Linked DNA regions of Homo sapiens: regions 1 and 3 are each linked to region 2. A link means that fine-mapping ties the variant in region 2 to the expression of a gene that starts in the linked region. Tissue or cell type: whole blood. Region 2 holds a variant in brackets; each other region holds the start of a gene. Each region is shown on its reference strand, or each on the opposite one. Region 1 holds the start of LINC00534 (long intergenic non-protein coding RNA 534). Region 2 has its middle 12 kb from the start of ZNF367. Region 3 holds the start of CTTN (cortactin).

Region 1 (4,244 bases), not on the chromosome of region 2:
TATAAATTTAAAACAAAAAAAGCATGTGTTACTGCAGCAAGATTTCCAATAGAGAGCGAAAACCTATTTGACATTAATCAATCACTTTTGAATCCTTGCCACAGCAAGTAAAATGTGAGGACAAAGGAACACAGACTGGGTCATGATTCATTAGTACTTAACTTAGATCAAGCTAAAGCAGACAAGAGGAGATAAATTTCTTATCAAACAGCTTTAGTGATGATGGAAGATTTAGACTCTATTTCAGCATTTTGCTTATTGAATTCCACATAGACAAATTTATCATTTTGAATCTCCCCAGTAAATTTTCTCTGCATTCAAATAAATGATAAGCTATGGGCGAAGAAATTCTCTCCTTTAATACTTTAATACCATATACAAATCTAGTCATCACATTAGTTGAATCCTAGAACCTCCTTCCTTTTGTGAATTAAAAACTTACAGCTCTTGGAAGACCAAGATATCAATACTGAGAATAATCAAAGGGTACATGTATAAGGATGGTGATGGGAGGTTAATCTCAACAGATACAGAAGTAAACAAAGCTTGGCTTAATAAAGCAAATGGTTATTTTAAGCAACATCAAATTTTTATAACGAGATCAGTAATGGAGAATATATAATGAAGCTTTTCAATAGAGTTCAAGGATTGAAACGAAGTGTGAAAAACACGACATTTTAGAAGCACACATCTATACAACACTGAAATTAAGATTAGGGATAGTAAGTGACATGGCAGGAATTTCTTTCCATTTTTTTTTAATTTCATAATTTTTTTTAATTTCACAGATTTTTTTGTTTAATTTCACAAGGATTAGTACATGAGCCATTATTTATCTGGCTTAGTAAAAAGTTTTCTGCCTATCTTAGCTAAGAGAAATGGAAGGCAACACTTTGATATGAGTGAATATAGCAATAATCAAGAAATTCCTATTCTATGAGATGTGGCAATGGTCGCAAATAAAATGTGACTAGTGTCCATGGGCAAGGTGAATAATTAATATATTCATTCACTGGGGACCTACATATAGTTCCCAATGAATGGGAACTTTTGGTATTAAAAAATTTGTATAAAGGTAATTTTTTGGTATAAAAGAAAATTATTAGCTTAAATTTCATCCTGTGCTCTCAGGAAAAAGAAAAATACTATTGGTCGTTTTTTAGAGAATGATACTAGGTATCAGCTAGCGTACTCAAGACCTGTGATATATACACATCATGTAAAATTTAAACACACCAACACTTACTAACATACAGCAATAGCACCAATATATTGAATAGACTTTAAACAGATTATTTTCATTAATTAAAGAAAATACCTGATATACCTCACACAGCTACCTGCAAAATGCTGCAAACACAGCAGAAGCTCAATAGAGATATTAATTAATCCAGTCAGCTAATGGTGATACCGTAACTACAAAAGCTGTATCCAAGATGATAGAGTTCTTAACTGGCCTCTCTGTCTTCAGTCTCACTGAAGTCCCACCCTCTAGACTGCAAAATAATCTTTCCAAAGATGAAATTTCTACTATGACACTCTATTTTTTAAATATTTAGTGGCCCGCAAAATAAGTTCCAACTTCCTTAGCATGTCTTCCTCACACGGCCCTTCATGATTTGGCTGTTATGTATCTAGACACCCTTAGATCCTGATACTTCCACACTTATTCCCTACACTCCCAGAATGCTAGACAACCAGCAATTCCTTGAGTATACCTTGTAGTCCCGTTTCATGCCTTGATCTCTATAGCAGCCATCATTGATACCCACCCATATCCGTTCAGCACTCACCATTTCTGTGAACCTCTAACTGCTGGCTTTCACCTGCGACTCTTTGCCTGAGGGCTTTCTCAGGTGGCCAGAGCTAATGGGGCCCACACCTGTGGAAAATCTAAAATAGAGAAGAATTAACATCCATAGGGAGCAGCTCTCAACCACAGAATGACTGGAACTGGTGAGCAGCTCCAAGTCATAGCCACACTGTTTCCCAGGGTGCTCCCAAAGAACTGAGAGACCCAGTTGCTCACAGAAGTAATCTGCCAGAAAAGACACTCTTTACAGTCATTCTTCCCTTCCTTATCTCACTTCCCACTCCCCTACTAGTGTTTCCTCCCAAATAAACTGCTGTACTCAACTCTTTGCCTCAGAGTGTGCTTCTGAGGAGAATCTTGTCCAAGATAGTCCCTTTACAAGTATCGTTCCCACTTCTGGAGAATATTTTTCCTTTCCTTCAAACCTACTTGGGAATTCTTCACCATCCTTTAAAGCAAACCTTCTTAAAATTTAATGTCATACAAATGACCAGAGATCTTATTAAAATAGAGATCCTGATTTGGTATGTCCTGAATGGGATCTGAGATTCTGAAGTTCTAACAGGCTTCTGGAAAAGGCGAATACCCCCAGTTTGAAAACCACACTTTGTGAGTAGCAAATATTTAAGACACAGTTCAAAAACCTATTTCTTTGGAAGTCTTCCCTAAAACTCCTTCATTCCTATCCTGATGATTAATTTTTCTTTTTCCCCTATGTTTATTACTGTGTGTGGTAATTCTTTGTTTACAGGTCTATCTCCAATGAGTTTGTTCCTTTAAGATGAGGATTGTCTTTTTCTTATCCATGTATCCACAATAACTAGCATATAGCCTGACATATTACCCATACCTAAGAAATGTTTGTGAACTGGTAAAATTAATGAACAAATTATAATTTTATGGCATACTTCACCAAAAATTTTATATGTACACATATTGTGTTCTGACACATTCAACTAAGTCAACTGTGTTATAAATATAAATTGTATAAATTCTTCAGATTTCTGGTCTATTTTTACATTAAATCATAGACTTCAGGACTTCTGAACAATGCAGATTATAGAATTTCTGCTGTAGAGATATTTAATAGGCTATGTCAACATCAGCTTAAAATGGTTTAGTTAACTGTTATCTAAAGGTCAGGAAAAGTATCAATCACTAGAATCCCTTCTTTGTATTCATATTTAAAATCTGTGGATGAATGTTGTGCAAGTTAGTCATTCATTGGGTTTAGGGAAGTGGAGAAGGTGGTGGCAGTGTGTGTGTGTGTGTGTGTGTGTGTAGGCACTTGCATGCATTTTGGGGGTGGGAGATATATTAGAGCAGAAATCACAAGAACATCCTAGGAGGAAGTACTTTATGGACTGCTCTCTTACCTGCCACAAATTGCTTGCAAATGCCATTGCCCTCAGAATCTCAGGATTGAACTTCTTGTTTATTTTAGTTGCTTCCTTCTTAAGAAAAATTCAATGTAAGGTGGTGAAACTAAATCTATCAAGGGAATAGCTATATGGTATCCTTAGATGGACAACTAATGGAAATAGCATCTGATCTTTCTACTTTAAGATGCAAGAACAGAAACTAGGGTGTTTTGAGCATATCAAGTTCTGAACTAGATAATAGCACTGATAATGGACTAAAGAAAAGTGATATGTGGAGCCCACAGTGTTGACTGGAAGTCAGCTCCTATCTCATTCCAACCTCATTCTCTTACCATTAGAAATCAACCCTGAGCATGTTAGAAAGATGTTCTCATGACAAGGAAAATGGCAACTGAAAGCCCTTGACATATTAAGATTTGACTAGATCAGAACTTGAATAACATTTTGTACTTTATTTGCATCTACCACATTGTATTTTAATTCTTACTGTCTAGGTCCATGTTTCCAATTAGGTTAGTCAAGTCCTTGAGAGCAGGAATCAATTTAATTCAGTTTTTTATTCCTGGAATATCGCTTGACCTATTGCAGATGTTCAGTTATCACTGTTGAGTTAATGAATCAATGAATGAATTGATCAATGAATAAATTATAGCCACATCATAATTGTTAAAAGAACACTAAACAGTGGATTAAAGCTTTGGGAGTCCAGAGAGCTAGGGAGGAGTCACAGTTTCTCAAAGATTTTACTAGTTCGAAAGGGTGTATTTAACATTAAAACAACAAAGAGATATACTTAGAACCCACTCTAAACAAAGACTAATAATAACAAGGACTGACGAGAATGTAAGAACTGGAACTCTCATGCATTGCTGGTGGGAATGTGAAATGCTACGTTTACTCAAAAATTATTATTTACTATATAACCCAGTAATTTCACTCTTAGATCTATACTCAAGAAAAATGAGAATCTGTGTCCAGACAAAGACTTGTGCATGAATGTTCGTAACAGCATCATTCATAATAGCCAAAATTTGGAGACTACTGAAATG
Region 2 (4,244 bases):
AGTTCAAGACCAGCCTGGCTAACATGGTGAAGCCTTTAGTAGAAGTCTCTACTAAAAATACAAAATATTATCTGGACGTGGTGGCGCACACCTGTAATCCCAGCTACTCAGGAGGCTGAGGCAGGAGAATGGCTTGAATCCAAGAGGCAAAGGTTGCAGTGAGCCGAGCTCATGCCTTGCACTTCAGCTTGGGTGACAGAGCAAGACTCCATCTCAAAAAAAAAAAAATTTGCACATGTGTCTAATGACACTACATTAGATTCTAAAATGTACCTCAGATAAAAATGTAATTCTTGAGGATTGGCTGACTCAAACTGTATCTTGGCATGCTAATTTATACCAAAAGGGACAGATTGAACCATAGACCCTATGTACTAGACACCTACCAATTAGAGACTACCCTTTTGTGTGTGTATGTGTGTGTATCCCCTCTGGGTCTTATTCTTTTGTCCATATTGCTTTTTAAAAATTATATAGGCCAGGCACTGTGGCTCAAGCCTGTAATCCTAGAACTTTGGGAGGCTGAGGCAGGCGGATCACCTGAGGTCAGGAGTTCAAGACCAGCCTGGCTGGCCGGGCATGGTGGCTCACACCTGTAATCCCAGCACTTTGGGAGGCTGAGGCGGGCAGATCACGAGGTCAGGAGATCGAGACCATCCTGGCTAATACGGTGAAACCCTGTCTCTACTAAAACTACTAAAACCCCGTTTCTACTAAAAATACAAAAATTTAGCCAGGTGTGGTGGTGGGCGCCTGTAGTCCCAGCTACCCGGGAGGCTGAGGCGGGAGAATGGCGTGAACCCGGGAGGCGGAGCTTGCAGTAAGCCGAGATTGCACCACTGCAGTCCAGCCTGGGAGACAGAGCAAGACTCCTCTCAAAAAAAAAAAAAAAAAAAAAAAACAAAAAAAAAAACAGTCGGGCGCGGTGCCTCACGACTGTAATCCCAGCACTTTTGGAGGCCAAGACAGGCGGATCACGATCAAGACCATCCTGCTAACACGGTGAAACCCCGTCTCTACTAAAAATACAAAAAATTAGCCAGGCCTGGTGGTGGGCGCCTGTAGTCCCAGCTACTCGGGAGGCTGAGGCAGGAGAATGGCATGAACCCGGGAGGCAGAGCTGGCAGTGAGCCGAGATTGAGCCACTGCACTCCAGCCTGGGCGACAGAGCGAGACTCCGTCTCGAAAAAAGAAAAAAGATAATATTATTACCTCCTTAAAAGCAGAGAAAGCCTTTGGAAAAAAATCCACATACATTCGTCATAAAGCACTCAGGAAGATAGGAATTAAAAAATACGTTCTTAACATAATTGAATGTTATTCCTAAAATTAGTTTCTTATTTAATGGGGATACACTATAGGGAATTCTAGCATTGGAAATAAGGCAAGGATGTTCACTATCCACTACTTTTCAACATTGTATTGGAGGTGTTAACTACTATGATTAGATGACAGAAATCAATTACAGGTTGAGCATCCCTAACCTGAAAATCCAAACTTGAAAATGCTCCAAAATCTGAAACTTTTCGAGTGCTCACATGATGCCAGAAATGGAACATTCCACACCTGACCTCATGTGATAGGTTGCAGTCAAAATGCAGTTGCACAACATGGTTTATTCAGCATCCCCAACAGAAAAAAAGACCCTCCCGGCCCCTTTCAGCTGTGGTATATCTTTTCTGTGCATGCCCAGATTACCCCCCAACAAGCGTGCCTGTAAAGGGTAATAAAATTGTACATATGCAGCTGGATGCACCAATGGCAGGTTCCCCACAATGCCCCATATAGGGCCAAGACCTATGTGCATTACTCACTGTG[T/G]TTTTTTTTTTTTTTGCTTATTCTCTGCTCTGTGTTTAAAGATATTGTTGGAAATGCCAAAAAGATACCCCTATGGGTAACAGTGATAAGAAAAAAAAGAAGCACTTATGTTTATCTATAGCACAGAAAGTCATGCTGTTGGAAAAATTGGATGGCGGTGGAAGTGTGAAATGCCTTACAGAACAGTATGGTGTTGGAATGACCACCATATGTGACCTGAAGAAACAGATGGATAAACTGTTGAACTTCTGTGCTAAAAGTGATGGATAGAAGTTAATGAAAAATAGAAAAACACTGCAAAGCTGAAAATGAAGATCTTGATCATGTATTGAAAGAGTGCATCCATTAGCATTGCAGTGAGCATATGCCACTTAATGGCCTGCTTATCATGAGACAAGCAAAGATCTATCACGATGAACTGAATATTGAAGGGAACTGTGAATATTCAGCAGGCTAGGTGCAGATTTAAGAGAAGACACAGCATTAAATTTTTTTAAAGATTCGTGGTGATCATGAAGCAGCAGAGAAATTAACTAGTGTGCCAAGGTCATTGCTGATGAAAATCTGACAGCAGAACAAGTCTATAATGCTGATGAAACATTATTGTTTTGCTGTTATTACCCCAGAAATACATTGACTACAGCTGGTGAGACAGCCCCTACAGGAATTAGGGATGCCAAGGACAGAATAACTATGTTGCAATGTGCTCATGCAGCAGGCACACATAAATGTAAACTTACTGTGACAGGCAGGTGAAAAAGCTTGCTGTTTTCAAGGAGTGAATTTTTTACCAGTCCATTGTTCTGCTAACAAAAAGGCAGGGATCATCAGGGACAGCTTTTCTAATTGTTTTCACAAACATTTTGTACTAGTGGCATGTGCTCACTGCAAAGAAACTAAACTGAATGAGGACTGTAAGATTTTGTTATTCCTTGATACCGATTTTGCTCATTCCCCAGCTGAAATTTTCATCAAAAATGTTTGTGTCGGCTGGGTGCGGTGGCTCACGCCTGTAATCCCAGCACTTTGGGAGGCCAAGGCAGGTGGATCGCCTGAGGTCAGGAGTTCGAGACCAGCCTGGCCAACATGGTGAAACCCCATCTCTACTAAAAATACAAAAAAATTAGCTGGGCGTGGTGGCACATGCCTGTAGTCTCAGCTACCTGGGAGGCTGAGGCAGGAGAATCGCTTGAACCCAGGAGGTGGAGGTTGCAGTGAGCCGAGATCGCTCCACTGCACTCCGGCTTGGGCGACAGAGCATGACTCCGTCTCAAAAAAAAAAAAATATATATATATATATATGTGTGTGTGTGTGTGTATATATATACACATATATACATATATACATACATATATACATATATACATACATATATACACATATATACATACATATACATATATACACACATATACATACATATACATATATACATATATACACACACATACATATATACATATATACATATATACACATATATACATATATACATATATACACATATATACACACATATACATACATATACATATATACGTATATACACATATATACATATATACATATATACGTATATATACATATATACATATATACGTATATATACATATATACATATATACGTATATATACATATATACATATATATACATATATACATATATATACATATATACATATATACATATATACGTATATGCATATATATACATATATACATATATATACATATATATACATATATACACATATATACACAATATACATACATATACATATATACACATATACATATATATACATATATACACATATACATATGTACATATATACATATATACATATGTACATATATACATATATACATATATACATATATATACATATATATATGTAGTCTGTGTCAGAGCTGGAAGAAGTGGATATTCAAGACGTTTTTAATGAGCCTTGTTCCTTCACTAACTGAGGGTGAAATATCTGAGTTGGTTCTGAACCAAGGTGATCGTGATAACAGTGACAGTGAAGATGATGATGTTAACACTATAGAAAAAGCACCTATAGAGGACCTGGTGAAAATGTATGATGGGCTTATTGAAAACTAGGGCAGTGTGCATTCACAACCAAACAAGAAATCATGTCAATTCATAAAAATCAAGAGAGACGTCTAAGACAGAAACTGGCCGGGGTGATGGCTCATGCCTGCAATCCCAGCACTTTGGGAAGCCGAGGCGGGTGGATCACCTGAGGCTGGGAGTTCGAGACCAGTCTGACCAACATGGTGAGACCCCGTCTCTACTAAAAATACAAAATTAGACAGGCGTGGTGGCACATGCCTGTAATCCTAGCTACTCAGGAGGCTGAGGCAGGAGAATTGCTTGAACCTGGGAGGTGGAGGTTGCAGTGAGCCAAGATCGCGCCATTG
Region 3 (4,244 bases), not on the chromosome of region 2:
CGAGCCTGGCAGAAGAATGTTTTAAATGACAGGACAGAACCATCCGTCCACCATCAGCTTTCCATTAGCCTCAGCATCTATGGCAGAGCAGGAGGAGAAAGGAAACAGACACTTGCGTAGCCAAAATCACCATCACAGGCACACTCCCTACACCACACTTACTCAAGGGAAACCCCGCCCCCAACATTTACTCCGTTTACTCAAAGCAGTGCGTGAGCAGATGGGGTGGGCCTGGGCCACAGTGAAAGCCAAGCCTGCTCCTGGAGCACAGTCCCCTGCTCTTGGCTGGCCCAGGCCATGGGAATACTGCAACACAAGGCAGCAACCAGCGCTCACAGCAATTCACACTCTCAGGACACCTTTTCTGAGCACCTACTGCGTGGCACAGACTGAAGATCTGAATTGCCGATTATGTGTGCTGTCATTTTAAAAGTGTTTTAAAAACAAGTCCATCAAAATGCTACAATTAAAAGTCAGCTTTAGCTGGGCCTGCAGTCCCAGCTACTTGGGAGGCTGAGGTGGGAGGATCGCTTAAGGCCAGCAGTTCAAGGTTGCAGTGTGCTAGATGGCACCTGTGAAGAGCCTCTGCACTCCAGCCTGGGTGACAGGGTCTCGCTCTGTCACCCAGGCTGGAGTACAGTGGTGCGATCGAGCTCAATGCAGCCTCCAACTCCTGGGCTTGAGATCCTCTGCCTCAGCGCCCCAAGTAGCTAGGACAACAGGTGCAAGCCAACATGCCCAGCGAATTTCTTTTTTTGTAGACACAAGGTCTCCCTGTGTTGCCCAGGCTAGTCTGGAACTCCTGGCCTCAAACGATCCTCTCACCTTGACCTCCCAAAGTGCAGGGATTACAGGTGTGAGCCACCGCACCCCTGCCCCAGGTCAAAAGAAATTTCTTTTCAGTAAGATATAGCAGAAGGTTAGCTTCTAGTTCTAGGGGACCTAATATCAAAACAACCCTGCCTCCCCAACTTTTTATTGAGTCCCACTTAAAAGACTCTTCCTTGTTCCTTGAGTATCTGGCGAATACTTCTCTAACCAGAGGAGAAACAGGACTGACTCAGTGCTCTGGAGCCAGTGACTCACCCACACGGTCAAACACGTGAATGGAGACAGGGGCAGGCGGCCAGCCCCTCCTGCGCCACGGCCTTGGGCCCGGCCGGGCTTGAGGGCTGGATCATGCCTGAAGGACCTAGTGGGTGAAGTCCCCCCGACAGAGCCTGCGCAGCCAAGTCAACACTGAGCCCAAAGGGAGCGCATGGGATTCCAGGGAGCGCTCACCGGATGCCTCCGGAGCTTCCTTCAGCAGAAAATGAATTCCTCCCCAAGGGGCCCCAAACGTCCACAGATTCCAGCGGGAGGAAGCCCTGTCCCTTCTCACCCAAGGCCTTCCAGCTTCAGGGATCAGGCATCCCTTAGACTATCCAGGTGATGGAAACGTAACAGAAAGCCCCAAAGCACCGTTCTGGTGATTTTAAACACACCCCGAAGGAGGGACGGTTCCAAATTTAGAGCCTCACGACTAGCTGCAGCCGCGCCTCGCTGCCTCCACTGACCTGATTGCAAAACCTCCGCTCAGGTGCAGGCCGGGCGGATCCCCAGCTGCTCCGCCACGTCCCACAGCGAGCCCCTCAAAGTCGCGCACCCCAACCGCCTTGACCCCGCGGACCCCATCCCTTTTCCCTGCGCCTGGATCCCTTCCCCTGGAGCCCCAATCCCCTCCCCTCGGACCCTATACCTTTCCTCCGAGCCCCGACCCCTTCCCCTCGAACCCCAATTCCCTTCCCTCGGACCCCATCCCAGTAGCTCTGCGCCTGGACCCCTTCCCGTCAGACCCCAATCTCCTCCCCTCGGACCTCATCCCTTTCCCTCTGCACCCAGACACCTCCCTCTCAGACCCCTCGCCCTTTCCTTGAGACCCCCCACACCCACCTTCCTTGGCCCCTCGAACCCCGGCCCCCTCCGCTCAGACCCCCGAACCCCACAGGCCCAGCCCCTCTCCCTCGGGCCCTAATACCCTCCCCCTCGGAGCCCATCCCCCTCTCCTATTCCCTCGGACCCAAGACCCCTCCCAGCCTGGCCCCTCTCCTGCCCTGGAGCCCCCCGGCGCCCAGGGACCCTCCCCTCAGAGCTGATACCCCAATTTGGCCCCTTTCTAACCTTCCTCCGCGGACCCCAGCCCCAAGCCCTCCGTGCCCCCTTGCCCCCTGCCCGGCCTCCTTGGGCCCAGACCCGTCCTCGTGGCCCTCGCGGACCCCCGGCCCTCGCCCTGCCCCGCCCCAGGCCGGGAAAGCCTCGCCACTCTGCCCCGGCCCCCGAAACCGCAAGCGGAAGAGCGGTGAGACCGCTGCGGCCGCCGCTTCCTTCCCCTTTCGCGGCCAGGCGACGCCACAGGAGGGAAGAAGCAGAGCCCGGCCTGCACCCCGGGCGGACGCCGCGCTCGCTCACCGCCGCCTGGGGTCGGTCCGGCCCGGGTCGGCCCTGGATTCCGCCGCGCCAGCCGCTCCCAGGCACCAGGCTCTACTTCCGGTTCCGAGGGCGGGGGCGGGGCCGCATCCGGGTCCCCGCGCGACCCCGCCCCCTGCCCCGCCTCCTCCCGCGTCTTGGCCCGCAAGAGTCCCGGGGGTCCGCCCGCAGCTGGCTAAGCGCTAGCCCGGCCTGTGGCGAGTCTGCAGAGCTCGCCCGGAAGTAGCGTTGCGCGCGCAGAGGATGGGCGCTGAGCAGCACACAGCCCGCGGCGGGGTCTCAGGATCCGCGGCGCTGCCCGGGGCCGGGGGAAGGAAGCCAGCCGAGGAGACGCACGTGCCCTGAGTCCGGGAGCGGGGAGCCTCTTCATCTCTCCATCCTCCCTCCGCGCGCGCCCTCAGCCGTCCTCGTCCGCTCACCATGCACCTCCCCTCCAAGAAAGGGCCACATGCGTGCCAGGGACGCGAGCCCCGGCCACAGGGACATAGCAGCCTAGAAGGTGAGTCAAGCGTTAAACCACATGGGTACTCACCTGGGAAATGAGATAAATGCCAAGAAGTGAGAGTTTCATAACATCGTATTGGGGAGACGGTAGGACCTGAACCCCTGGGAGACCAGAGGTTTCTTTGGGCGATTCACATGTTAGCCAAGATGTGAAGGCCCTATAAGAGTAAACAAGGTAAGGAGGGAAGAATTTTCCAGGCAGGCCAACAGCAGGTTCCAACAGCAGGGCCAACAGAGGTCCCAAGGCAGGAACGGTCTTGCAGCAGGGGAACTGGAGGAGGCTCAGCTCAGCATGGTAGAGGGCTAGTGGTGCAGCGGAGCTGTGGTGTGAGAGGGGCCAGGTCATGCAGAGGCCGATAGAGCACAGCGAAGACCTCGGTCTTTATTCTGGGAGACACGGGAAGTCCTCGGAGGAAGTTAAGCTGATAAGAGACATCATGAAGTTTGGGCCAGGCGCAGTGGCCCACGCCTGTAATCATAACACTTTGGGAGGCTGACATGGGAGGATCGCCTAAGGCCAGGAGTTCGAGACCAGCCTGGTCAGCATAGTGAGACCCTCGCCCCCGCCCGCCATCGCTAAATAAATAAATAAGACATAATGAAGTTTGAATTGTAATGAGATCACTCTGGCTGCTGTGTGGAAGATGGATGGGAGAAGGGCCAGGTAGAGCCTAATGTAGCCAATTCGGGCAGACCGCTGGTGGCAGGTAAGATGGGGAGAAGTGGATAGATGCAAGAGGCATTTAGAAAGCTAAACTGTCAGATGTGAGGATGAATTGGAAGTGCGGGTGGCGGAAGGAAATGTCAGGTGTTGACCATTTTTTTAAAGGTAAAATCATGACCTTCATACACATATAAAATGAACACGTCAAATATTTTATTTAACTCGATAATGAATACATCATAAGTTGTTACAAATTGTTTAAAGAATTTGGCCAGATGCAGTGCCTCGCGCCTGTAATCCCAACACTTTGGGAGGCCAAGGCAGGAGGATTGCTGGAGGTCAGGAATTTGAGACCAGCCTGGGCAGCATGGCAAGACCCTGTCTCTACCAAAAAAAAAAAATTTTTTTTAAGAAAAAAATTAGCCAGGCATGGTGACGTTTACCTGTGGTCCCAGCTATTCTGGAGGCTGAGGCAAAAGGACCGCTCCGGCACGGGCAACAGAAACCCTGTGTCAAAAAAAAAAAAAACGGAAGACGAATGCTGAAATGAATTTGCAAAAACTGCTCTATCTCTAGTGCAAAGGTCAATTGCATTTAACTGGACACAGCT

Evidence for each region. PIP is the estimated chance that this variant, and not a neighbour inherited with it, causes the effect.
Region 1: it holds the start of LINC00534, and the variant in region 2 is fine-mapped to the expression of LINC00534 in whole blood (TOPMed, PIP above 0.99).
Region 3: CTTN starts here. The variant in region 2 is fine-mapped to the expression of CTTN in whole blood (TOPMed, PIP above 0.99).

What each region holds. Positions count from the first base shown.
Region 1 is chr8:90,219,296-90,223,539 of GRCh38, reverse strand. It overlaps LINC00534 (long intergenic non-protein coding RNA 534), which reads right to left and starts at 2,052. Exons shown (of 4, transcript NR_051989.1): 1 at 1,794-2,052.
Region 2 is chr9:96,428,212-96,432,455 of GRCh38, reverse strand. No RefSeq gene overlaps it. Among named protein-coding and RNA genes, the nearest start is that of ZNF367, 12 kb to the right of the region's middle. The variant T/G (reference allele first, on the strand shown) is at 1,819.
Region 3 is chr11:70,396,819-70,401,062 of GRCh38, reverse strand. CTTN (cortactin) reads right to left here and starts at 2,534. Exons shown (of 18, transcript NM_005231.4): 1 at 2,449-2,534. It overlaps CTTN-DT (CTTN divergent transcript), which reads left to right and starts at 2,601. Exons shown (of 3, transcript NR_186321.1): 1 at 2,601-2,965. RefSeq lists enhancers at 26-320, 3,169-3,238 and silencers at 1,608-1,677, 2,259-2,768, 2,869-2,918, 4,016-4,204.